2 linked regions of the Homo sapiens genome follow. The main gene of each other region encodes a partner of the protein of the gene in region 2 in a complex. Each region holds a gene or a part of one and is shown on either strand. Other genes may lie near its edges.

Evidence for each region.
Region 1: PRMT5 (region 2) and WDR77 share a complex: the UniProt entries of both Homo sapiens proteins name them as parts of the methylosome complex.

Annotation. Positions count from the first base shown.
Region 1 is NC_000001.11:111,439,390-111,446,256, forward strand, and holds the end of WDR77 (methylosome protein WDR77), read right to left. Parts: intron 4,736-6,867; coding exon 4,665-4,735; intron 4,533-4,664; coding exon 4,478-4,532; intron 4,006-4,477; coding exon 3,934-4,005; intron 3,373-3,933; coding exon 3,264-3,372; intron 2,741-3,263; coding exon of another isoform or gene 2,705-2,740; coding exon 2,636-2,704; intron 2,001-2,635; coding exon 1,841-2,000; 3' UTR 501-1,840; downstream 1-500. UniProt on the Homo sapiens protein: Non-catalytic component of the methylosome complex, composed of PRMT5, WDR77 and CLNS1A, which modifies specific arginines to dimethylarginines in several spliceosomal Sm proteins and histones.
Region 2 is NC_000014.9:22,921,119-22,937,758, forward strand, and holds the start of PRMT5 (protein arginine N-methyltransferase 5), read right to left. Parts: upstream 8,259-16,640; 5' UTR 8,244-8,258; coding exon 8,134-8,243; exon of another isoform or gene 8,108-8,133; coding exon of another isoform or gene 8,049-8,107; intron 7,498-8,048; coding exon 7,379-7,497; intron 7,094-7,378; coding exon 7,008-7,093; intron 6,543-7,007; coding exon 6,408-6,542; intron 5,785-6,407; exon of another isoform or gene 5,697-5,784; coding exon 5,584-5,696; exon of another isoform or gene 5,438-5,583; coding exon 5,388-5,437; exon of another isoform or gene 5,343-5,387; intron 5,179-5,342; coding exon 5,015-5,178; intron 3,923-5,014; coding exon 3,761-3,922; intron 3,592-3,760; coding exon 3,514-3,591; intron 3,420-3,513; coding exon 3,361-3,419; intron 3,324-3,360; exon of another isoform or gene 3,275-3,323; coding exon 3,152-3,274; intron 3,066-3,151; coding exon 2,890-3,065; intron 2,290-2,889; exon of another isoform or gene 2,043-2,289; coding exon 1,933-2,042; exon of another isoform or gene 1,851-1,932; intron 1,718-1,850; coding exon 1,624-1,717; intron 1,442-1,623; coding exon 1,325-1,441; intron 1,123-1,324; coding exon 1,058-1,122; and 2 more. UniProt on the Homo sapiens protein: Arginine methyltransferase that can both catalyze the formation of omega-N monomethylarginine (MMA) and symmetrical dimethylarginine (sDMA), with a preference for the formation of MMA.

The sequences.
Region 1 (6,867 bases), on a different chromosome or scaffold from region 2:
TGAAACCCTGTCTCTACTAAACACACAAAAATTAGCCTGTAATCCCAGCTACTCAAGAGGCTGAGACAGGAGAATTGCTTGAACCCAGGAGGCGAAGGTTGCAGTGAGCCAAGATCATGCCACTGCACACTAGCCTGGGCAGCAAGAGTGAAACTCCATCTCAACAAAAGAAAAAAAAAACCTATGCTTCCCTTCCATATTGTAACCACCTTGACACATTTCCTTCCTTATCACACATTTCCACACATTTGCTTCCTTATCTCTTTCACTGAGTTTTTTCTCCATCATTCTTAAGTCCAGGAAGAAAAGGGCTATGCAAATTCCTACTCACCTCAAGCTCCCCCACCCCTTACTTTCTCTAAGTGTCCACAAAATTAAAGTTTTATCTTCGAGAGGCAGAACTTAAGTGATTGTACCTACCCATTCTATTTCCTCCCACATTATAAAAATGATGCAAGACTTTATTCCTACTCCACATCAACGCCAGAGGATCACACAACTACAAATTCCCATGTTTTACTCAAGGGTAATCATGTCAAGGGTGAAGCATGGAAGCTTTACTGAGAAATATTTTGCCCATATTCCTTCAGACTTTCCCAGTTTCATAATGTGATTTTTACCTAAATTGAACCTGCAAAGCTCAAAAGTACATAATTGATTATATTTACTTTCAATATAATCAGTAATTGATCCATGACTCCTAACTGGCAATATCCACTCCACCAACCCAAGAATAAATATTTACCTTAAGTTCTAACTAGCTACTTTGGGAAGCTGGGGAAGCACAGGAAAAATAATGGGCTACAAGACCAACACCATGATGACTCACATAAGTGAAATATATCTAACTACACATAACACACATGCTTCAAAAAAGACAGGCCAACAATGCCTAAACTCTTTATTTCACCAACCAGTATTTCTGATTTTCTTCTTGATACTGGATTTTAAAACCTTAGAAGTCTATAAATACTGCATTCAGACTTTCCACATCAAGAGAAAGGGGACCAGGGCAGAAGATGTCAGGCCCCATGCTGTTTTGGGGTGGGAAAAGTGGCAAAGAATTCTCAACAGCCTGTGTCAGTTTTCTAACTTAATTGAAACACCTTTAAGCTCTCCTTCATCCCCAAACTTTCCCCTATGGTGTCTATGATAGAAAAACACTTCTCTCTCATATATGTCCCATCACTAGGGAGCCAGGGGGAAGGGAGTGGGCATTACACAGGCAAGCCAAACTTTTTATTCAGCCAGAAAATGGATTTCTGATTCAGTTTAATGGTAAGGAGTTGTGTAAAACCGTACCAAGTCCTGCTTCTTCCTCAGAGTGAGCTGGGCTGCATTTTTGTGACTGGAAGCATTTCTCATAATGGTGAATTAAGCACTATAAAAAAATAAAGTCAATCCCATCTCTATGAGTAGCATAAGAGCTGCTTCCAAGAACCCAGGGATGCCCACATCCCATAACCCACCCAGACACGGCCAATTCCTCATAGACAGCTACATAAAACCCTTTCGTCAACTTGTTTTGGGGGGTGAGAGAGAGGCAGTGCTTAGGGAAGATGTAGGATGGATTTTTTTTATTCCTGCCACTACCAAAAACTATAAATCTACACACACACTCACACGCACATACATGTCCATTTTTAAGAAAGCTTTTCCTCCCTGTGACTACAGGAACCCAGAATCCAGCCTCCCTCAGGCTGAGAGACGATGCCTATTAACGGCACAGATCTAGCATATCAACATACTATAGAAGGCTCCTGTGTTGTCTCACAAGCTGAGAGGGCAGGGCAAAGAAGTGGACACTCATGGGGGACTTGCTTTTTGTCTTAAATCCAATCTACTCAGTAACACTTGCAGGTCCAGGGGCTGGGAGAGGTTCTGTGGGCACAACGTGGTGGACGACCTGATGGTCCCAGCCCACTGTGGTAAGCAGGGAGTGATTGAGCGGGGACCAAGTCGCATCTCTCACAAAGTCTCTGTGGGCTTGGCTTCTAAACCTAGAAGAAAGAAAAAAAGTCGGGGCAGAGTAGAGACAAGAAAAGCAGACCTGGAGAAAAAAAGAGAACCCAACACATCTGGGGCACATTTTTTGGGTGTGTTACACACATTTCACCAACTGTATGGCCTCATCGCCAGGATAGCAGTGTAGCTATCCACAGTGGATGTCATCAGTCATCCAATCCAGTCTTCTATTTTCATAGATGAAGAAATGCTGGATAGAACAAGACAGTGATGAGGGGCAGTAACAGGCAGCAAATCACGGCAAGGAGGGAAGTACAATTCAGGTCTTCCAGGTGCTGCCTTTTACCCTGTAGCAGGCTGCATTTCATACGCAGTTCTTTATGTGAGAGGGTAGACTGCCGCCCCCTTGTGGGAGAGCGCTGGAGGGCTAGACTTAAAAATTTCACCTACCACCCCCCTCTACCAAGGACACGGCTTGTCCTTGGGGTTGTGAATGTGCCCCAGGAATGGACAGGGTCAACAGCCAGCCTGCTTCCATTACCAAGTCCCTTCGGATACAGATGGAGAATCTGTTCTCCAAAAGCACAACACAGTTTTCTGAAGAGGAAAATGACTCGCCCACCCACTGCTCCCCTTCCCTGATTCCCAAAGGATTCCACTTCACACTTACAACTCAGAAAGGCTTGAGTCCAGCACAGCAAGTGAGCAGTCTTCACTGAGAGAGGCCAGGAAGGGAACACTATCAGATGGAGGAGAGGGTTGTGAAAGGTCCAGCCTGGATCCCAAGACAAAACCTTAACTGGGCCGGCCCTGCCGCCACTGTAAAGTGACCCAGGAGAGGCAGCCTGATTCCCACTTTTGGCTAATCTGGCTACTACAAGTCCACACTAAAAGTTTCAAGTAAAGATGAGGGAAATGAAGCAAAGTTAGGGTTGACAACCATCCTGGCAACTAACCACCCCATCTGGTCCCTCTCTATAGCTTCAGCAATAACCCAGAAACACAGGCTTTTCCAATCTCACAGTCCTAGAAGCCCACAACATTAACCATTTTGGGTGTTGGGCAGGAATGAAATCACATTTTAGCCATTTCAGACAGAAACCATCTAATCTGAAAAATCCTTTGACTCCCAAAGGATTCTACTTCACACTTAAGAGATCTTCGATGTTCCGAAACCTCAGCTAGAACACTGTCTGCTTTAAGGAACTACTTCATCAGCTAATGCTTTGAAAACATACACACACACCCTCACGGTTCCCATTTATACCCATCAGGCCCCTGATGACAAAGAACAGTACCTGTGTGGGGAGAACACCAGCCCAGTGACACACTGGGAGTGTACAGCTGAGCTCAGGACACAGCTTGTACTCTTGGTGTCCACAAGGGAGACTGTCCCATTCTCATCACCTGTAGAAGAGAAGGAACATGTCATAGTGATTAAGAGCATGGACTTTTGTGCCAAAGACTTGAATCCTAGTTCCTCGAGCTTGTAAAAGTTAACCATTCTGAGCATCAGTTTTCTCTTTTGCAAAGTAGGAATAATAAGTCACTGGATCATTGTGAAAATTAAGTTAATGAACGAAGCAGTTATTATTTTAACCACAAACTATGTCACCATATACACAGCCTCATGACCACGATAGCGCTACACCTACCCACAGTAGGACAGAATTCGCTATATAGCAATCCACTTGCTTTGTGGATCACTGACTTATAGCCATGCCCAGAATACAGAAGCTGGATCAATCAATCAAAAATCAAATCCACTGGGAAAATAATCATGTTCTCCAAAACTACACTAAAACTACGTTGGCATCACCCCACCTCCCCACCCTCAATTCATAATTCATCTAGTGTCCATGAGGGCTAAGACTGAGCAACAAGGGCCTTGTGTGTTGTGGAGTCAGCTCTTTCTTTTTCCTCCTCCCCTTTCCCAGAGTCAATATGAAGTCTGACACGCTGCCTTACCAAAGACAAAGACTTCACTTTGCTGAGGATGCCAAGCCAGCGAGGTAGGAAGGTAGCCAGGCGCACTGCAGCCTGCAAAGGAGAGACGAGGGTCTGGACCAAAACTCAGAGTACAGAAGAAGCAGTTTCTCAAATGATATCACTCTAAATCCTGGGAGCACCTTTATTTGATTTCCCAAACCCTGCTAAGGCAGCAGTGTCCTCATCCTTGAGCCTCATAACCATTTATCCCAGCAGCCTCCTGCCCTTTCTGGACACGAGTCACAGGCAAGTTTCAGGCACGAATCATGACGATAACAATTCTGGCCCCTTTGTCCTACCATCTAATAAAGTAAATCACCCACCCAGGAACTGGCCCTTCCTCTTGGTATTCATTGCACAGAATGGGGTTAGCAGAGCCTCACTGGAAAAGAAGGAGATTATGTCACTCATGTCACAGTAACTACACTGGGCATCTAGCAACTATGCTTTGACACTGGCCAAAGACAGTCTCTTCTATCAGGGTTCCAAGTACTATTCTCCCACCAATGAATCTCAGACTCACCAATCTGTGATGCTGGCTTGGGACAGCGGGTATCCCAGAGTAAAATTCTATTGTCCTAGAGGAAGGTGGAACAGAAAAAGGATTTCATAATCCAAAGGAGCAGTTGCAGGCCAGAAAGTCTCCCCACTAGAGACTTTGGCCTATGGATGGCTGGAGTGTGTTTAGGGAAGAAGGAGCTATCTCTTACCTCGCTGCATGAAAGAAACACAGAGTCCTTGTGAGGAGAGGCAGCAACACAAGTGACCTGAGCAGCATGAGCTATAAAGGAGAGAGAAAGAGAAATATGATAGAAAACAAGCTGAAGCATTACTAGAGGGCCAGCCCAGGAATAATCAAGGGGCAGGAGGGAGGGAGGGCTGGTCTCATGATGCAATTTAACAAATTTTGTGGGAGATTATGGATTAGACAAAAGCTAAGAGGAGAAGTTTATAGACTTATAAAACCTAAAAAGCCTTGTAAAAAAAAAACGTATTAGTGAAGATAATGAATGAGAAATTAGGGGCTTAGTAAGAATAACAAAGGAATTTCCAGTTTAGGCATCCTAGACGTGAGGGCTAAATAATTCTAGAATAGCAGTCTTCATACTGGAGTACACACACCTCCAAGTAGTATACAAAAACTTTTGAGGGAGTTCTGGGCGCTAATAGTATTAAGAGAGCCAATTTCTCTAATGTTCTCTTTCTTAAAATTGAACTGCCTCTGTTTTCAATCACTCTTCTCCCACTTCATAGAAAGAACACATACCTGTCATTCATCCCAGATCTTTCCACGCTACAATGCTCAGGGGTATAAAAATATAAGGGTTCTAAACTAAGGGACAAAAGGGGCTTTTCCATAAGAACCAAAGAGCAAAAAGAAAGAGCATCTAGGTAAAATTCAATGAAGGGGGCTGATCTTGTTTCAGTCACACCACAAACACAAGTATGGCTCTGTGACTTAACTCTGTTTCTGTCTAATAATGAGAACTAAAAAATATGATAGATCATTGTGATAAGGACATATTCAACAACTTTATCTGAATTTAAAAACAAAGTCAGACTTTTTCTGACAGAAAATTTAGTCTATCTTGGTCCACTGGCTTTACAATGCAGACTGGCTTTTGCCAGTTAGGCTGTTTGGTAGACATTCATGCAAACTAAGTAGCGTTAACCTGCGAATCTAAAATTTTGACAAATATATGCTTGAAATAAGCACACAATAAATTATATGCCAGAAATTACCTTCTCTGCAACTACTTAAATAAGCATTTTTAGGTATCAGTTTAAAAATGTATGAGGGGGCACAGATTTTCAAAACTGTTTTAGGAGGTCTACATGTAAAAAACTTTAAAGTCACTGCTACATGTTAATTAGAAGCTGTGGAAACCTTTTCTACAGTCATTTTACCAGACTTTCCCAGGTAGTCTGAATGTGGCCCTTCCCTGAGGCAGAAGGATGGAATTAAACCAGTTTCCATAGTTCTTTCCTAGCCCTAGAATTCATAGAAAGCCAACAGGATAAGAAGTAAGAAAAGGAATTTATTGCTCACTTGAAAAAAGCAAAGCTCTGGGACAAGCACCATGGTGGTGTACAAAAGATGAATACATGGTTCCTCTACCCTCAAAGGTTTTGGGGCAGGGTGCAGTGGCTCATGCCTGTATCTCTCAGCACTTTGGGAGGCCAAGGCAGGAGACCACTTGAGCCCAGGAATTTGAGACCAGCCTGGGCAACATAGCAAGACTCTGTCTCTACAAAAAATAGAAAAATAATAAAGGATTTGGAATTCAGCAGGGGGAATAAGACACAAACACAAAGAACTAACAAAAAGGCTGCATGGCAGAAATGCTGAAAAAGAGTTAGCATTAACCAGGAAAGCACATCATATGTCTAAGAAATAAAAAGCAAATATAATAGACATAGAACATTGACTTTTTTTTTTTCCCTGAGACAGTTTCACTCTGTTGCCCAGGCTGGAGTGCAGTGGCGTGATCTCGACTCACTGCAACCTCCGCCTCCAGGGTTCAAGCACTTCTCGGGCCTCAGCCTCCCAAGTAGCTGGGATTACAGATGTGCACCACTACGCCTGGCTAATTTTTGTACTTTTTGGTAGAGTCAAGGTTTCGGCATGTTGGCCAGACTAGTCTCTGACTCCTAGACTTCATATGATCCACCCGCCTCAGCCTCCCAAAGTGCTGGGATTACAGGCGTTAAGCCACTGCGCACAGCTGGGCATTCAACATTATTGTAAAACTATTTCCAAGTGACCCTGAGGGTCCAGGATACTGGACCTTGGATATGAGTCAGTGATTTCTCTGGCCTATAACTTAGTCATGTACTTTGAAGTTAGAAATGGCAGGGAAAGGCACTTAGCCATTGAGAGAACCACAGTGATCCCCCAGCATCTAAACCTTG
Region 2 (16,640 bases):
AGGTAGGTGTGGAGATAAAATGATAAACATGACAAGACTGTCCCAACCCTCATGAAAGTTATTTGAAGCCTATCAGAACACAAATAATCAAAGGTGTGGTGAGAGCTGTGAACATGTACAGAGTCAGAAAAACACCTATGAAAGGGAACACTAACCTAGTCTAGGAGATCAGAGAAAGTTTATCTCACAATAAAAATGTTTAAAGAAGACCTAGAAGATAGGTTAACTGTGTGAAGAGACAAGCAAAGAACTCTACAGGCAAGAGAAAGGCATGAAAGCCTGAGGTAGGAAAGAAGATAGACAATTAGAACAAAAAGAAGGTCCATAAGGCTGAAGCAGTGTAAGCAAGGGGACAGTAGCTGCAAAGGCAAGCAAACACTCGATCACATCAAGTCTTACAAGCAATGTCCCAGATTTTGACTTTTATCCTAAAGACAATGGGAAGGCATTGAAGAGTTTTAAGCAAAAAAGAGAGATAAGATCAGGCCAGGCGCGGTGGCTCACGCCTGTAATCCCAGCACTTTGGGAGGCTGAGGTGGGCGGATCATGAGGTCAGGAGATCGAGACCATCCTGGCTAACACGGTAAAACCCCGTCTCTACTAAAAATACAAGAATTAGCCGGGTGTGGTGGCTGGCACCTGTAATCTCAGCCTCAGGGAGGCTGAGGCAGGAGAATGGCATGAACCCGGGAGGCGGAGCTTGCAGTGAGCCGAAATTGTGCCACTGCACTCCAGCCTGGGCGACAGAGTGAGACTCCGTCTCTTTAAAAAAAAAAAAAAAAAAAAGACAGCAAGAGAGATAAGATCAAATTTGAGTTTTTAAAAGATGACTCTTGCTCAAAGTAGAGAACAGACAGAAGAGTAGCCAGAGTAGATGCGGGAAAGCCAGGCAGAAGGCCACTCCAAATACTCCCAACACCTACCACTGGGATCCAAGAGCATATGAAATCAGGAGAACATGAGTCATAGTCAACTATCTTCCTGGGAGAAGGAAAGAAGCACAACACCAAAGGCAAAGGTTACTGCTTAACTAGAGAGTCTTAAAAGCAGTTCCTACCTTAATAGGGAAGAGGATGGGAAACCATGAGAACATCCCAGGAGAGTGAGTCTCTGGACGGATACCTGTGTGGACAAAATAATGAAAAAACAGAGGTCTCCATGGCTGTGACTTTTGCCTATGCTGAAGAGGGTCTCTTCTCTAATCACACAAAGATCTCCATTCATTGAGCACTGGGCCCCCCATAAATCTAAATGACACATGTACATATAAGCTGCCCAGGAAGCACACCCTCATACTCTGCCATCTACTGCCATAGACACTCACTCAGAGTGATGTCCTGATAAAGCACAGTCTCAAAGTAGCCGGCAAAGCCATGTAGTACTGTGTTCACCTCCACAGGAAATTCCAAGGTGCAATAGCGGTTGTTGTCAATCATAGGATCTGTCAGGAAATAATTATGTGGGTGACAAGGGGCCAGAAGCTCTAGACAACTTGATAAAGCATGAGCAAGACCCAGGAAAGGAAGAGTAGATAAGGCAGACTAGGGACAGTAAGGGAAGAAAGCAGGAGGAAGGAAGAAGCCCGTACCCCTCTAGTCAGAGGACAGCCATAAAAGAACCTACCTCTGTTGGGATGGCTGAAGGTGAAACAGGGCTGGGGTGCAGAGAGCTGGTGGAAGTTGTGCAGCCGTACCACATAAGGCATCTCAAACTGGGCCTGTCAGAGACAGAAAGAGAGAGAGAGTGTTGGGGAAGACACACAAGAGAGAACTACTTCCCCAAGGATTAAAAAAAGTTTTACTTTAGTGCTTCCCCAATCCCTAACTTCTCCTTCACCTCTTCATCCCCAGCAGAAGAAAATAGCTGATGCAAATACAGAAAAAGAAGAGGACTAAAGAGTACCACTTCTTTCCAGAGAGAGTGGTTCTTTACCTCAGGGTCACGGTCCTTCTCCCTACAGGCTCGGACCTCATTGTACAGCTTGGAGGAAGAGATGGGAGCCAGAAAGGAAGTGTACTCCCCGGGGATGCTCACACCATCATCTGCACAGCAGGAGAGTCAAATTAGTTCCAGAGGGAGGGAAATGGTATGTCTGTACTAACTGAAGGATCAGAAGGATCAAACCTCCCATGTCAAAACCAACCAACGTTGGCATGGGCATGGAAGAAAGAGACAAATGCATGTTGTCACATTACTAAGCCAGCCTGCTTCCAACTACTGTCATGGAGGATTCCACTACTAGGTTAATTTACAGAGTCACACAGATTAAAACTGAAAGAACCCAAGATAGTCTAATCTGGTGGTTCTTAACTTTTGTGGGGTCACAAAGTCCCACAAAAGTTCCTGATGAAAGCTAAGCTCAGGGTACATATGTCATATTTATTTATTTATTTATTTATTTATTTATTTATTTGAGATGGAGTCTCGCTCTGTTGCCCAGGCTGGAGTGCAGTGGCACAATCTCAGCTCACTGCAACCTTCTCCTCCCAGGTTCAAGTGATTCTCGCGCCTCAGCCTCCCGAGTAGCTGGGATTACAGGCGTGCACCGCCACGCCTGGCTAATTTTTGTATTTTTAGTAGTGATGGGGTTTCGCCATGTTGCCCAGGCTGGTCTCAAACTCCTGACCTCCCGCCTTGGCCTCCCAAAGTGCTGCAATTACAGGCATGAGCCACCGCGCCCAGCCCACTCCCTTCATTTTACAAATATGAACACTAAGGTTTGGAGAGATGACTTCATTTGCTAGGGGCACAGAGGCAGTGAAGCAGTGGCTCTCAAACTCATATGATGTGACCCAGGTCCAACCCACTTTCCCCTAAACCCTGTACCCTCCTCCCAGGTTGCTGTCTCACCCATCATCACCCTCCACCTACACCCCAACCTGGGGGCACCTTTTAGGAAGTGCTGGGCTCCATCCAGGCACTCAGGCGACAATTCATTGTCAGCAAATGAGCCCAGAAGCTCACTGACAATGATGTCTGCTTTCTCTGGAGCCACCCATTCCCTCATGTCTGATGAGACTACGGTCACTTGGCTTCCCCATTCTTCAAACTGCCAGTTCTCTAGCCTGAAACAGAGACAATAAGGTAAGGAGAGATGTTAAGGAAATTTGGCAATGAGGACTAACTTCCCAGCAAGCAGGTTGCTACTCACGTCACCACGGCATTTGGGTTTTTCTCCACAGCATACAGCTTTATCCGCCGGTCGGCCTGCTTGGCTGCCCGCAGGGAAGCGTTCACCAGGGGTCCCCGTCCTGCTCCCAGCACCATCAGTACCCTAAGAAAGAAAGGGAAGAGTCAAGCAGACTTGGCATATACAGATATAGGTATGCAAGTCCCTGAGATTGAGGGGAAAGCACTCACTGGACATTGGTATCCTTCTCCTCTTCTGGTACTCGGTCTAGCAGACATTTATAGATGGCCTGGAGGGAGGAGAGAATATCCCATGGTTGTAATCCCATCCTCCCCAGGTCATGCTGGCCCTGTGCTTTCCTCACCCTGGGCACCACACAGTACCTGCTGGTACTGAGAGTATTTGATGGGGTCCTTTTCAAACACTTCATATGTCTGAGATTCCAGATTGTCCATCAGTGGCTGATGAATGAGGAAAAGGACAAAGTTAGCCAGTTTCTGGCAAAGGACAATGCACTAAAATATCAAAAACTTTCCACTGCTTTCTGAGTTTTAGTAAGATTTGGAGGCATATATTCTCAAGAAACATTTTCCATCCCACCTTCCTCCTCTAAGTGCACTCCAGACCCACCTGAAGCGGGGACTGCAGATAGTCTTCATAGCCCTTGGCAAAGAGTTCATAGGCATTAGGTGGAGGACGGTTCTGGCTTAAGTATTCCAGGTATTGGAGGTAGGAGCAGAACTCCTTCTCTGAGTGGTGGTTGGTGCCTGTGATGATGAACTGCACCTCCAACTGTGAGAAAAGTCAGACCATCAGACACAGCCCTCAAACCAAGATTCTGGAATATTATGGTATATGGCCAAAGAGCCCTAGTGTAAAATAAGGCCCAGATCAACAGTTCTCTTTTTTTTTTTTTTTAAAAAAAAAGATGGAGTCTCGCTCTATTGCCCAGGCTGGAGTGCAATGGCGTGATCTTGGCTCACTTGCAACCTCCACCTCCCAGGTTCAAGCAATTCTCCTGCCTCAGCCTCCCAAGTAGCTGGGACTACAGGTGCGTGCCACCATGCTTGGCTAATTTTTGTATTTTTAGTAGAGACGGGGTTTCACCATGTTGGACAGGCTGGTCTCAAACTCCTGACCTCAGATGATCCATCCGCCTCAGCCTCCCAAAGTCCTGGGATTACAGGCGCGAGCCACTGCACCTGGCCCAGACCAACAGTTCTCTAGCGTCTGTCCCAATACCAACAAAGGCAGCATGAGGCTTCAGTAAACTTATAAAAAGCCCCCTTGGCCGGGCGTGGTGGCCCACGCCTGTAATCCCAATACTTTGGAAGGCCGAGGCGGGTGGATCATTTGAGGTCAGGCGTTCAAGACCAGCCTGGCCAACATGATAAAACCTGTCTCTACTGAAAATACAAAAATTAGCCGGGCAGTAGTGGTGCATTCCTATAATCCCAGCTACTCAGGAGGCTAAAGCAGAAGAATCGCTTAAGCCTGGGAGGCAGAGGTTCTGGTGAGCTGAGATGGTATGGCTGCACTCCAGTCTGGGTAACAGAGTGAGACCCTGTCTCAAAAAAAAAAAGAAAAAAGAAAAAGCCCTCTTATGCCATGAAAGTATCAACACCCAAACAGCCTCATGGATCCTTGCTGTAACTTCCTAAATGAAACCTTCTGCAAAGTTCTCATGAGGTTTGGTTTGTTTTGAAAGGTTTCTAGGGCTACTACTGGCATTTACCTTTTTGTTCTCAAGATTCCCAACTTCACTGAAATTGCTCCCCAGAAACCAAAGAAAAAGAGTCAGCCTCACAGGAAAAAACGATCATACACAGGTAAATAAGGCAAGATGTATAGCTGGACTACCTTTAGAACCCTCCTACCACTCACCTTGAGGAGCCGGAAGATGAGCCTCTGGTGCATCTTAGAAAGAACAGGAAATCCCTTCTTATTGGTCAGGAAAATGCTAGTGGGGAGAATGGCTGCTTTGATGGGCTCCCCAAGCCAGCGATCAATGACATGATTAGATGGGAGGTCAGCCCCAATTTCAAGAGCTACATGAGGCAAAAGAAAAACTGTCAACCACTGCCAGGCAAGAAACCCTTCCTTGCTCCTTTGCGCAAAATCTGTTTACTTCTTTAAGAGAAAGCCAGTCTGAGACAGAGGGGAAGTAGCAAAATTGTATACTATATATGAAATTCCTGATTCTTATTCACAGGAGGTAAGAGAAGCCACACCCATCCCAGGATTCTCATGGACTCACCCACTGCAATCCTCTTACTATAGTCACACAAAGTCCGGAAGTTGTGCCACCTGTTCAGTCAAATACAGAAAAGTACAGTAAACTAGATATGGCCGACCAATCACCACAGCTCAAGGAGACCTCCCTACAGGTTGCACCCTGTACTTCCCCTCACCCTATCCCTTGCACCCTGGTACAGCAGCAAAGGGAGACATACCACATCCACGTTTTCTCCTCCCCACTGTACTCCTCTGTGTGTGTAGTTGGTGCATTCTCAATTATATCATCTCTCAGGTCCTCTGGTGCCACCAAGGGTACCCGCATCCAGAACTGCACATGAACAGTCACCCTTTTAGAACTCTCTTTTGAACTCATTGGGTCCAGAAAGTTTCCCTCAATAAAAAAAACTTCATCCAGACCTCGTTAATCCCTTTATATGCTTTTCCCAATTTGTAATTTTGTAAGTGAACATGTACCTTATATATAGATCCTTATGTAAATATCTGCCTTGTCTTACGTAAGTTTCCAAAATAATTACATTTACATGTTTTGAAACTCTCTTCATACCACTTTTAGATGGAGAGGTGCGCAATACTGACCTTTTTTTTTTTTTTTTTTTGAGACAAGGTCTGGCTCTGTCACCCAGGCTGGAGTGCAGTGGTGCAATCTCAGCTAACTGCAACCTCCGCCTCACAGGTTCAAGTCATCCTCCCACCTCAGCTTCCCAAGTAGCTGGGACTACAGGCGTGTGACACCCCACCTAGCTAATTTGTGTTTTTTTGTTTTTGTTTTGGTTTTGGTTTTTTATACAGACAGGATTTCACCACGCTGCCCAAGCTGGTCTCGAACTCCTGAGCTCAGTGATCTGCCCACCTCAGCCTCCCAAAGTGCTGGGATTACAGGCATCACCCACTGTGCCCGCCAATACTGATACTTCAATTCTGCCAAACACACCCTTCACTGAATGGCTAGGCACAAGAAGGTACTTAGCACAATCTGACTACTATGATATGCAGCAGGAAAGGAGCCCCTCAGCTATACCATGGAAGAGTGATGGCCAGTGTGGATGTGGTTGGTCAAAACTCTGGCCAGGTTGGTGTTATCTTCCTGATTAAGGGGCAGCAGGAAAGCTGGAAGACCCAAATATGCACCAAAATTCAGCTCCTGTAACATGGCCTGGAACGGAGATGAAGAGGAAAAGTTTGAGCTAACAAGCAAACAGCTTTTTTTTTTTTTTTTTTGAGACAAAGTCTCACTCTGTCACCCAGGCTGGAGTGCAGTGGCACAGTCTCCACTCACTGCAGCCTTGACCTTCCCAAGCTCAACTGATCCTCCCTCCTCAGCCTCCTGAGTAGCTGGGACCACAGGCATGCACCACCATGCCTGGCTAATTTTTGTATATTTTATAGAGATGGGGTTTCACTACGCTGCCCAGGCTGGTCTCGAAATCCCGAGCTCCAGTGATCCTACAGCCTCAGCCTCCCAAAGTGCTAGGATTATAGGTGTGCACCACAGCACCCAGCCTAATAGCTTTAATTTCATTCTATCAGTTAATTTACCAAGTTATTGGGGATGGGAGGGGACCACTCTCCCCACCCAGCTTGGTTAGAAAAATCCAGCAGAGAAGTCAAACAGTCTTACCGCCTCGGAGTTCCTGCGAATCTTCTCCACTTTTGAGTCTGGACGAATCCATGGAGAAAGCTTTCCCACAATTAGCGTATTCCAGTCTGCACTCCCCCACCCAAGAAAGACAAATACTGAATAAGGTTCAGCACTTTACTTGTTCAATTTTTAGTTTTGGGAATCAAGAGTAGAAATGAGAGACAAAGGTTTTTTCTACATAGACATGGGATAGCCTGATGCAGAATAGAGAAGCAAGGAGAAAACAAGTTATCTATATCCCAGGGACTAACAAATATATCCAAGTCAGAAAAGGAGGAGAATGAGGGCCCCGATAAAGCAGAAGTTGTTATTGCCTCTAATAATTAAGGGGCATATGGGATGGTCCCTACCCCTTCCTGACAGCAGTAGGTCTGATCGTGTCTGGGGACCGGGCCGATTCTTAGCAGGTTCCTGAATGAACTCCCTCTTGAAACGCGGATGGAAGACAGGCATGCAGAGGAAATCAAACCTACAACCGCGACAGACCCAGAATCATGTAAAGACAGCAGCAGTGCCAGAGAGCCAAGCAACTGGATTTAGGCTATCTTGATTTTGCACAGCCCTTTCAGCTGCCATCAGTTCAGCCTACTAGGCTGCTGAGTTCAGACCACCTTGGGGGATATCAACTCTGCTGTACTGTGCCTCAATTTCTCCCTAAAACACAGCCATGGGACATATGAGTAAGGAGAAAATGATGGATATCCACAAGTAGAATTTTTTTCTCCTCAGGTGTCAGTATGTTTCCAAGACCATCACATCCAGATTTGCCCCAGTTCTGCCCATGCCTCCCCCGTCAAAATTAGCCTCTTCTCTCCCTTGCCCCCTAACACCTCCTCCCACTCCCAGACAATAATCGCGACCTCCAGGGCCCTTTAGAGTTTACCCAACAACTCTCCCAACTTTGGGACTCAGTGACCACAGGCCTCCCACAAGTTATTTTCCTCACGTTACTGGGTCCGAGGCTCCTCCCCTCCAAAGAGTAATAGTCTCTCCCCTCCTCATCCTAGCCGACCCCCTCACCCCTGCTTCTCCGGGATGACTAGTCTGCCCTTCTCCGTCCCCGAGTTCGGACCCCGCATTCCGCTCGTGGAGGTCCGGCCCTCACCCCTGCTTGGCCACAGCCCCTAGTGTGTCAGCTATTTCGGGGACGCAATTCAGGTCCCTCCCGCTGGACACGCGGCTCCCACCAGCACCCCCGACCGCCATCGCCGCCATCTTTCTCCTCGCGCTGTCCACGCCGGGATTCCTTGATACTAGTAGCCAATCACAAAGTCAAACTAGTGCCCCAGAAGGCGGGACGAGTCGCCTTAACAACCAGAGCGTCTGCCACAGCTCCCGAACAGGAGGGATGGGGAGTGGCTTTTCCTGCCAATCCGCGGGCTGCACAGTGGCGTACGGCATGGATCCACCAATCTCAGGGTCTGGTTCCTGACGAACTTCAATCTCCCAGAATGCTTAGTCTATCTGAAGAACGCCGTTGAGAGACTACACCGCCCATGAAACCCTGCAGTATAACCTTGAAGTACCATCACGGAGAGAAACAGTGCCATCTCAGGGCCAGTGGCGCAATGGATAACGCGTCTGACTACGGATCAGAAGATTCCAGGTTCGACTCCTGGCTGGCTCGGTGGGGTTCCTCGCAGCTTCGCTGCGTGAGCATTTTGTAATTTTCCTTTCCTTTCGCAGCTTGATGCTTCTTTATTATCTTCACGCTTTCATTATCAGATCCTGAGTCGGTTGGGTTATGCAGCCATGTAATGTCAGCTTTTCCCGTAACTACCCTCAAAAGTGTTTTTCTTGTGTCATTATTTACGTCCATATGAACACTGAGAAAACTGGGTTAATGGCTGGTGCTATTAAAATGAGCTTTGTCACCTTACTATGTTACATATTAAAATAAACTGCTAACTCAGCTACTACTTCCTAGTGATTCTAGGAAGTAGTGTTTTGTGTTTCAAACACAAAAGGTGTAAATAAACGCCTAAACACACACACACACCTCAAGATAGAGAAAAGGAATTCATTAATTACAGTGGGCAGCAGTCATGAAATTGGCTGGCATGGAGGCCAGAGAGAATCTACATTTTCTCATGTCATTAGCTGCTAGAGATGGAAAGGAAGGAAGCAAGGAAAGACATAGGGAGGTAAATGGGAACTCCAGAAGGCAGGGGGCCCACTGGTGTTGAGGGCTCGGCAGCAAGGATGGAGAGGAGAACACGGTACAAGAGACCCCACGCAGGCGCCGCTGGCAGAACTTAGGGACCGACTGGCAAGGAGTCCTGAGAAAGCAAAGTAGGGGGTGATGCCTAGGATTCTGTCCATGCAGTGAGCAAGAAATGCGGAAAGAGGGTTTGGGAAATCAGGGTTTGGGTTTGGTCATGCTGAATTGAACGTCTAGGGGGCGCTGTGTAATAGAAAGTTGGATGGAGGTCGCTAGAAGAAAAGAACTGAGGCCATGCGACTGAGATCACCATAGCTCGTTGGGGACAGAGCCATAGGAAATACGAAAAGGGTGTGGGGTAGGATAAGTTCTGGGGAACCCTGGGTGCAATGCAAGTGCCCCAAAAGAATGAAAGCCGGAAAACCGGCCGGGCGCGGTGGCTCACGCCTGTAATCCCAGCACTTTGGAAAGCGGAGGCGGGTGGATCTCCTGAGGTCAGGAGTTCGAGACCAGCCTGGCCAACATGAAAACTCCCCGTCTCTCCTAAACGTGGTAGCAGGCGCCTGTAATCCCAGCTACTCGGCCAGCTACTCGGGAGGCTGAAGCAGGAGAACTGCTTGAACCCGGCAGGCGGAGGTTGCAGTGAGCCAAGATCACGCCACTGCACTCCAGCCTGGGCAACAAGAGCAAAATAATGTCGGGGCAGGGGGAGGAGGAAAGGAAAGTCGGAAAAACCAAAGCATTTAAAAAATGCACCATGAAGGCCAGGCTGGGCACAGTGGCTCACGCCCGTAATCCCAGCACTTTGGGAGGGCGAGGCGGGCGGATCACCTGAGGTCGGGAGTTCGAGACTACCCTGACCAACACGGAGAAACCCATCTCTACTAAAAATACAAAATTTAGCCAGACGTGGTGGCGTGCGCCTGTAATACCAGCTACTCAGGAGGCTGAGGCAGGAGAATCACTTGAACCTAGGAGGTGGGAGGTGGAGGCTGCAGTGAGCCTAGATCATGCCGTTGTACTCCAGCCTGGGCAACAGCAAGACTCCGTCTCAAAAAAAAAAACAAAAAAAAACCCCAGCACTTTGGGAGGCCGAAGCAGGCGGATCACGAGGTCAGGTGATCAAGACCATCTTGGCTAACACAGTGAAACCCCGTCTCTACTAAAAAAAATACAAAAAAAATTAGCCGGGTGTGGTGGCAGGCGCCTGTAGTCCCAGCTACTCAGGAGGCTGAGGCAGGAGAATGACCCAGGAGGCAGAGCTTGCAGTGAGCCGAGATCGTGCCACTGCACTCCAGCCTGGGCGAGAGAGCGAGACTCCATCTCAAAAAAAAAAAAAAAAAAAGCTCCATGAAGCCTGAAGTGATTGGAGGTGCTTTTGTCCACTATTATCGTTACTATTTTTCTGCTCCAGGATCCCATGCAGCATATCATATGACATTTAGTTGCTATGTCTCCTTAGGCTCCTCTTGGCTATGACAGTTTCTCAGATGTTCCTTGTTTTTGATGACTTTGGTAGTTTTGAGGAGTACTGGTTAGGTATATTGTAGGATGCCCCTCTATTGGAATTTGTCTGTTTGTCTCATGATTAGACTGTGTTTTGGGAAGGAAGGTCACAGAGTTAAAGTGCTGTTTTTGCCGGGGGCAGTGGCTCAGGCCTGTAATCCCAGCACTTTAGGAGGCCGAGGCAGGCAGATCACCTGAGGTCAGGAATTCGAGACCAGCCTGGCCAACATGGTGAAACCCCGTCTCTACTAAAAATACAAAAATTAGCCAGGAATGGTGGCATGCGCCTGTAATACCAGCTACTCGGAGGCTGAGGCAGGAGAACTGCTTGAAACTGGGAAGCAGAGGCTGCAGTGAGCCGAGATCACACCACTGCACTCCAAGCCTGGGTGACAGAGCGAGACTCCATCTCAAAAAAATAAAAGTGCTATTTTAATCACATCATATCAAGGGTACATACTATGAACATGATTTATGACTTAATGTTGACCTTGATCACCTGAAAAGAAGTAGTTTATCCAGTTTTTCCACTGTTAAGTGATTCTCTCCCACCCTCTCCCCGGCCCCAACTTTCCATACTGTATTCATTGGAAGGAAGTCACTATGCTCCCCCTCCTTAGAGTTGGAGTATCTACAGAATTTATTTGGAATTCTTCCCTCCAGGTCTTTCCAATAAATGGTTGTTCTCAGCAAGTGGGTGAGTACTCCACCAGCATTTTATTTATTTATATTTTATTTCATTTTTCATTTTATTTTGAGACAGAGTCTTGCTCTGTCGCCCAGGCTGGCGTGCAGTGGCATGATCTCAGCTCACTGCAACCTCCACCTCCCGGGTTCAAGCAATTCTCCTGCCTCAGCCTCCCAAGTAGCTGGGACCACAGGTGTGCACCACCATGCCTGGCTAATTTTTGTATTTTTAGTAGAGACGGGGTTTCACCATGTTGGCCAGGCTGGTTTCAAACTCCTGACCTCAGGTGATTCACCCACCTCGGCCTCCCAAAGTGCTGGGATTACAGGTGTGAGTCATGACGCCCCACTTTCACTGGCATTTTAAGAGGTAAAAGAAAGAGTTGTTGAGGAGGTCTGCTTGTTCTCTGCCCTAGTTGTGCCCAGCCAAACTCTACATTCACAGAAGACTTGTTAGATGTTTTTTCTTCTTTAGAAGCTAATTGTCTAGATTGTGGACCATCTGTGCTCCTGGCATCTCACTCCTGATGTCAAGCAGGTAGCTGCTCTGTTGGTTGTTAACTAACCCATCATGGGTGACAGGGAGAGAGGACAATCTATAAAACAATAATGTCAGTTTTGCCATCAGTTAAAGTAATTTTCTAAAGGATTCATGTAAAAAGAACCTAGAATTTCTGACTGACCCTAAAGTAAGTTTACATGGGCTGAATTTCTTTGGTCTGTGCTGTCTTTGTCTTTTCATTCCAAATGGCCTCGGCATTGTGGCTAGCATCATGCTGAACAGTTCTCAGTAACTCCATACCACGTTGCTCTCAGCCTTTTCTATAGCACTTTCCTGTGCCATAAAACACAGCATGTAACCGTGGGTCTGTCTACATGAGTTGTAGAGGAGCAAGAAGGGAAGGAATGAAGAGAAATAGAGCGCCTTGAACAGGTCCTGTCCCTAGGCGTTAAGTCAAAGTTGGTGAAGTCTACATTATGTTCTGCTTTGCTCTGCTCTGCATGCTGAGTTTTTGGGCCCAGAAGTGTGTGAATCACTGTTATACTATGGGACTTTTGCCTTGGCTGAGATGAAGATAGGGAAATGGTGGGACAGAAGGGCAAATACCCTGGGTGAGAAATAATGTTACTTTCTCCAACAGGAGCCAATGACCAATAGGCCAGAGCACTGGAGACTTTCTGGAAGAAAGAGGTACCCACTCCCAGATAATGCTCCCACTTATCCCCCTGGCTTTCCTCGCTTTCAGGCCCAATTCTTCCACCTTATCTTGTTCTTTTGTCCTTGTTTAAACACCTCTAGCCCATTGAAAACCTCTTGGCATCTTCTACTGTGCTCCCCTCCTCCCTCAGCGCTTGCCTCCCTCCCCAGGCCCACCTTCACTCATCTCTGTGCCTGCCCAGCCAGCCACACTCTTCAACACCAAAATAATGGCCTGTTTGACCCTCCTACTGCTCCAAATTTCTTTTTCACAATCAAGGCTGTACTCCAGCTATGAAAGTGGCAGAGTTACTGAGGCAAAATAATCTGTGCAGATTTGCATTCTCTTTTTTGTCATCTCTATTATACAGTGTTTATCTGTCAAAATGAATAGAAAGCAGGAACTGTTCTGAACATAGAAAAAGATGGAAAACTACCCAATTTATTTATGAAGACAGAACACATCTAATATCAAAACCTGTCAGAAATAACACTCCCAAAAAAGCTATAGACCCTTACTTATGGATATAAATGTTAGATTCCTAAAATATTTAAGATTAATAAATAAAACGTAACAGTATGTTAATATAGTAATTATATAATACAACCAATTAGGGTTTATACCAATAATTAATACAAAGGTATTAGGAAATTTCTTTATAGAATAGGTCAAAAATAAACCAAACAAAAAATATTTGACGGTTGTTAATTGTCAAAGAAGAGAACACAGTATGTTAACTGCATTTTCTATAAATATTCTTTTTTTTTTTTGAGACAGTCTCGCTCTGTCGCCCAGGCTGAAGTGCAGTGGCGCGATCTCAACTCACTGAAACCTCCATCTCCTGGGTTCAAGCAATTCTCCTGCCTCAGCCTCCCGAGTAGCTGGGACTACAGGCGTGTGCCACCATGCCCGGCTAATTTTTTTTGTATTTTTATTACAGACAGGGTTTCATCGTATTGGCCAGACTGATCTCAAACTCCTGACCTCGTGATCCGCCCGCCTTGGCCTCCCAAAATGCTGAGATTAGAGGCATGAGCCACCGCACTTGGCCATAAATATTCTTAATAGTTTTGATATTCATCATGTATGTGTATATATAAGATCAAAAACTTATGTAAAGATGAAATGAGCTGCCCTGCATGGTTGTAAGTGCCTGTAGTCCCAGATACTCAGGAGACTGAGATGGGAGGATCCCTTGAGCCCAGGAGCTCGAGGTCAGCCTGGGCAACACGATGAGACCTTTTCTTAAAAAAAAAAAAAAAAGATACAAGAATATCTAGTCTCATCACTGAGTTATTTAGTATTATTCTGAAAAATCCAATATAATAAGATTGGAAATAGAAAAAAAGGGGTTACAACTTTTAGGAAGGGAGAGGTAAATTTATCATTATTTGTAGATAATATGATTGTACACATAGAAAATGCGTAAGAATCCATTTTAAAATGATGAGAATTAATACTAGAATGCAGAGAAGTAACTTGATGTAAGATAAGTATAAAATAAATCTGTAGCTTCTCATATACTAAGATTAACCAGTTAGAAGACATTATTGATTTTTAAAAATCCCAATAATATGATAGTTAAGAGTATGGCCTGCTAAACCAGATAGCAAGACGTTAAAGCCCTGTTCATTCATTTACTAGGACTGTGAACCTAACCCTTCTGGCCTCAGTTTTCTCATCCACAAAATGGGAATGTAAATAATAGCTCTTATAAAGTCATTATGAATATTAAATTAGTTAACATAGTAAAGCATTTAGAAGCTACCCTGCACATAGTAAACCTTCAATACATATTGGCTATTGTGATTATTATTTTCCCCATTCACAGTGGTAACAGTAACACTACTATAAAATATTTATCTTTACTGAAAAATGTGAGAAACTGACATAAAGAAAATTATAGGCTGGTTACAGTGGCTTATGCTTGTAATCCCAACACTTTGGGAGGCCGAGGCAGGAGGATTGCTTGAGCCTAGGAGTTCAAGGCCAGCCTAGGCAACATAACAATACCCCATCTCTACAAAAAAATTTTAAAAATTAGCTGGGCGTCAGCCTGGCCAACATGGTGAAACCCCGTCTCTACTGAAAATACAAAAATTAGCTGGGTGTGGTGGCACATGCCTGTAATCCCAGCTACTCGGGAGGCTGAGGCGAGAGAATCCCTTGAACCTTGGAGGCAGAGATTACCGTGAGCCGAGATTGTGCCGCTGCACTCCAGTCTGGGCGACAGAGTGAGACCCTGTCTCAAAAAAAAAATTAGCAGCCGGGCACGGTGGCTTGTAATCCCAGCACTTTGGGAGGCCGAGGCAGGTGGATCACCTGAGGTGAGGAGTTCGAGACCAGCCTGGCCGACATGGTGAAAGCCTATCTCTACTGAAAATACAAAAATTAGCTGGGCGTGGTGGCAGGCACTTATAATCCCAGCTACTCAGGAGGCTGAGGCAGGATAATTGCTTGAAGCTGGTAGGCGGAGGTTGCAGTGGGCCAAGATCGGGCCATTGTTCTCCAGCCTGGGCAACAAGAGCAAAACTCCATCTCAAAAAAAAAAAAAATGACCTGGGCATTGTGGCACACACCTGTAGTCCCAGCTACCCAAGAGGCTGAGGTGGGAGGACTGCTTGAGCCCAGGAAGTTGAGTCTGCAGTGAGCTGTGATCAAACCACTGCACTCCAGCCTGAGTGACAGAGCAAGACCCTATCAAAAAGGAAAAAAAAAAAATTGCTGCAAGATAAAATAGAAGACTAAAAAAAAAATGGAGAAACAAGCCATAATCTTAGAAAATAATGAATCTTATAAAGATGTAAATTCTTACCAAATTAATTTCTCAAGTTCTCACTTTTACAACATTCAATTACGATTCTTTTTTTTTGTTTTTTGAGACGGAGTCTCGCTCTGTCACCCAGGCTGGAGTGCAGTGGCACGATCTCAGCTCACTGCAAGCTCCGCCTCCCAGGTTCATGCCATTCTCCTGCCTCAGCCTTCCAAGTAGCTGGGACTACAGGCGCCCGCCACCACGCCCGGCTAATTTTTTGTATTTTTAGTAGAGATGGGGTTTCACCGTGTTAGCCACGGTGGTCTCAATCTCCTGACCTCGTGATCCACCCGCCTCGGCCTCCCAAAGTGGGGGGATTACAGGCGTGAGCCACTGCGCCCGGCCCATTCAATCACAATTCTAATGGAATCTTTTGTTACTTGATAAAATAATTCTACTGTTAATCTGCAATAAAAATCAGACAAGAAAAGCAAGGAAAACTCAAAAAGAGAGGAGAAAGAGGCCAGGGAGTGGTGGATTTTTTTTTTTTTTTTTTTTTTTTTTTTTTTTGAGACACCTCTGCCTCTCAGGCTCAAGTGATTCTCCTGCTTCAGCCTCCCAAGCAGCTGGGATTACAGGCGCACGCCACTACTGCCCGGCTAATTTTTGTATTTTCAGTAGAGACGGGGTTTCACCATGTTGGCCAGGTTGGTCTTGAACTCCAGACCTCAAATGATCCACCCACCTCAGCCTCCCAAAGTGCTGGGATTACAGGCGTGAGCCACCACACCCGGCCTCAATGAAATCTTCAGCAGCCATTAAAATCAGTGTTGTCAAAGAAAATGTAGTAACATGGAGAAAGTCTTATGACATGCCATTAAGAGACACACATTACAAATTTTACACACAGAATGACCTCAACTATGTGGAAAAATTGTATTTTCCAAATGTTCTGTATAAGCGTGTTTATATTACACGTAAAATATTTTTTAAAATACATATAAAACCTGTTACCTTGGCCGGGCACGGTGGCTCACGCCTGTAATCCCACCACTTTGGCAGGCTGAGGCAGGCAGATCACCTGAGGTCAGGAGTTCAAGACCAGCTTGGCCATGGTGAAACCCCGTCTCTACTAAAAATACAAAAAATTAGCCAGGCATGGTGGTGTGTGCCTGTAATCACAGCTACTTGGGAGGCTGATGCAGGAGAATCACTTGAACCCGGGAGGCGGAGGTTGCAGTGAGCCGAGATCGCGCTATTGCACTCCAGCCTGGGCAACGAGTGAAACTCTGTCTCAAAAAAAT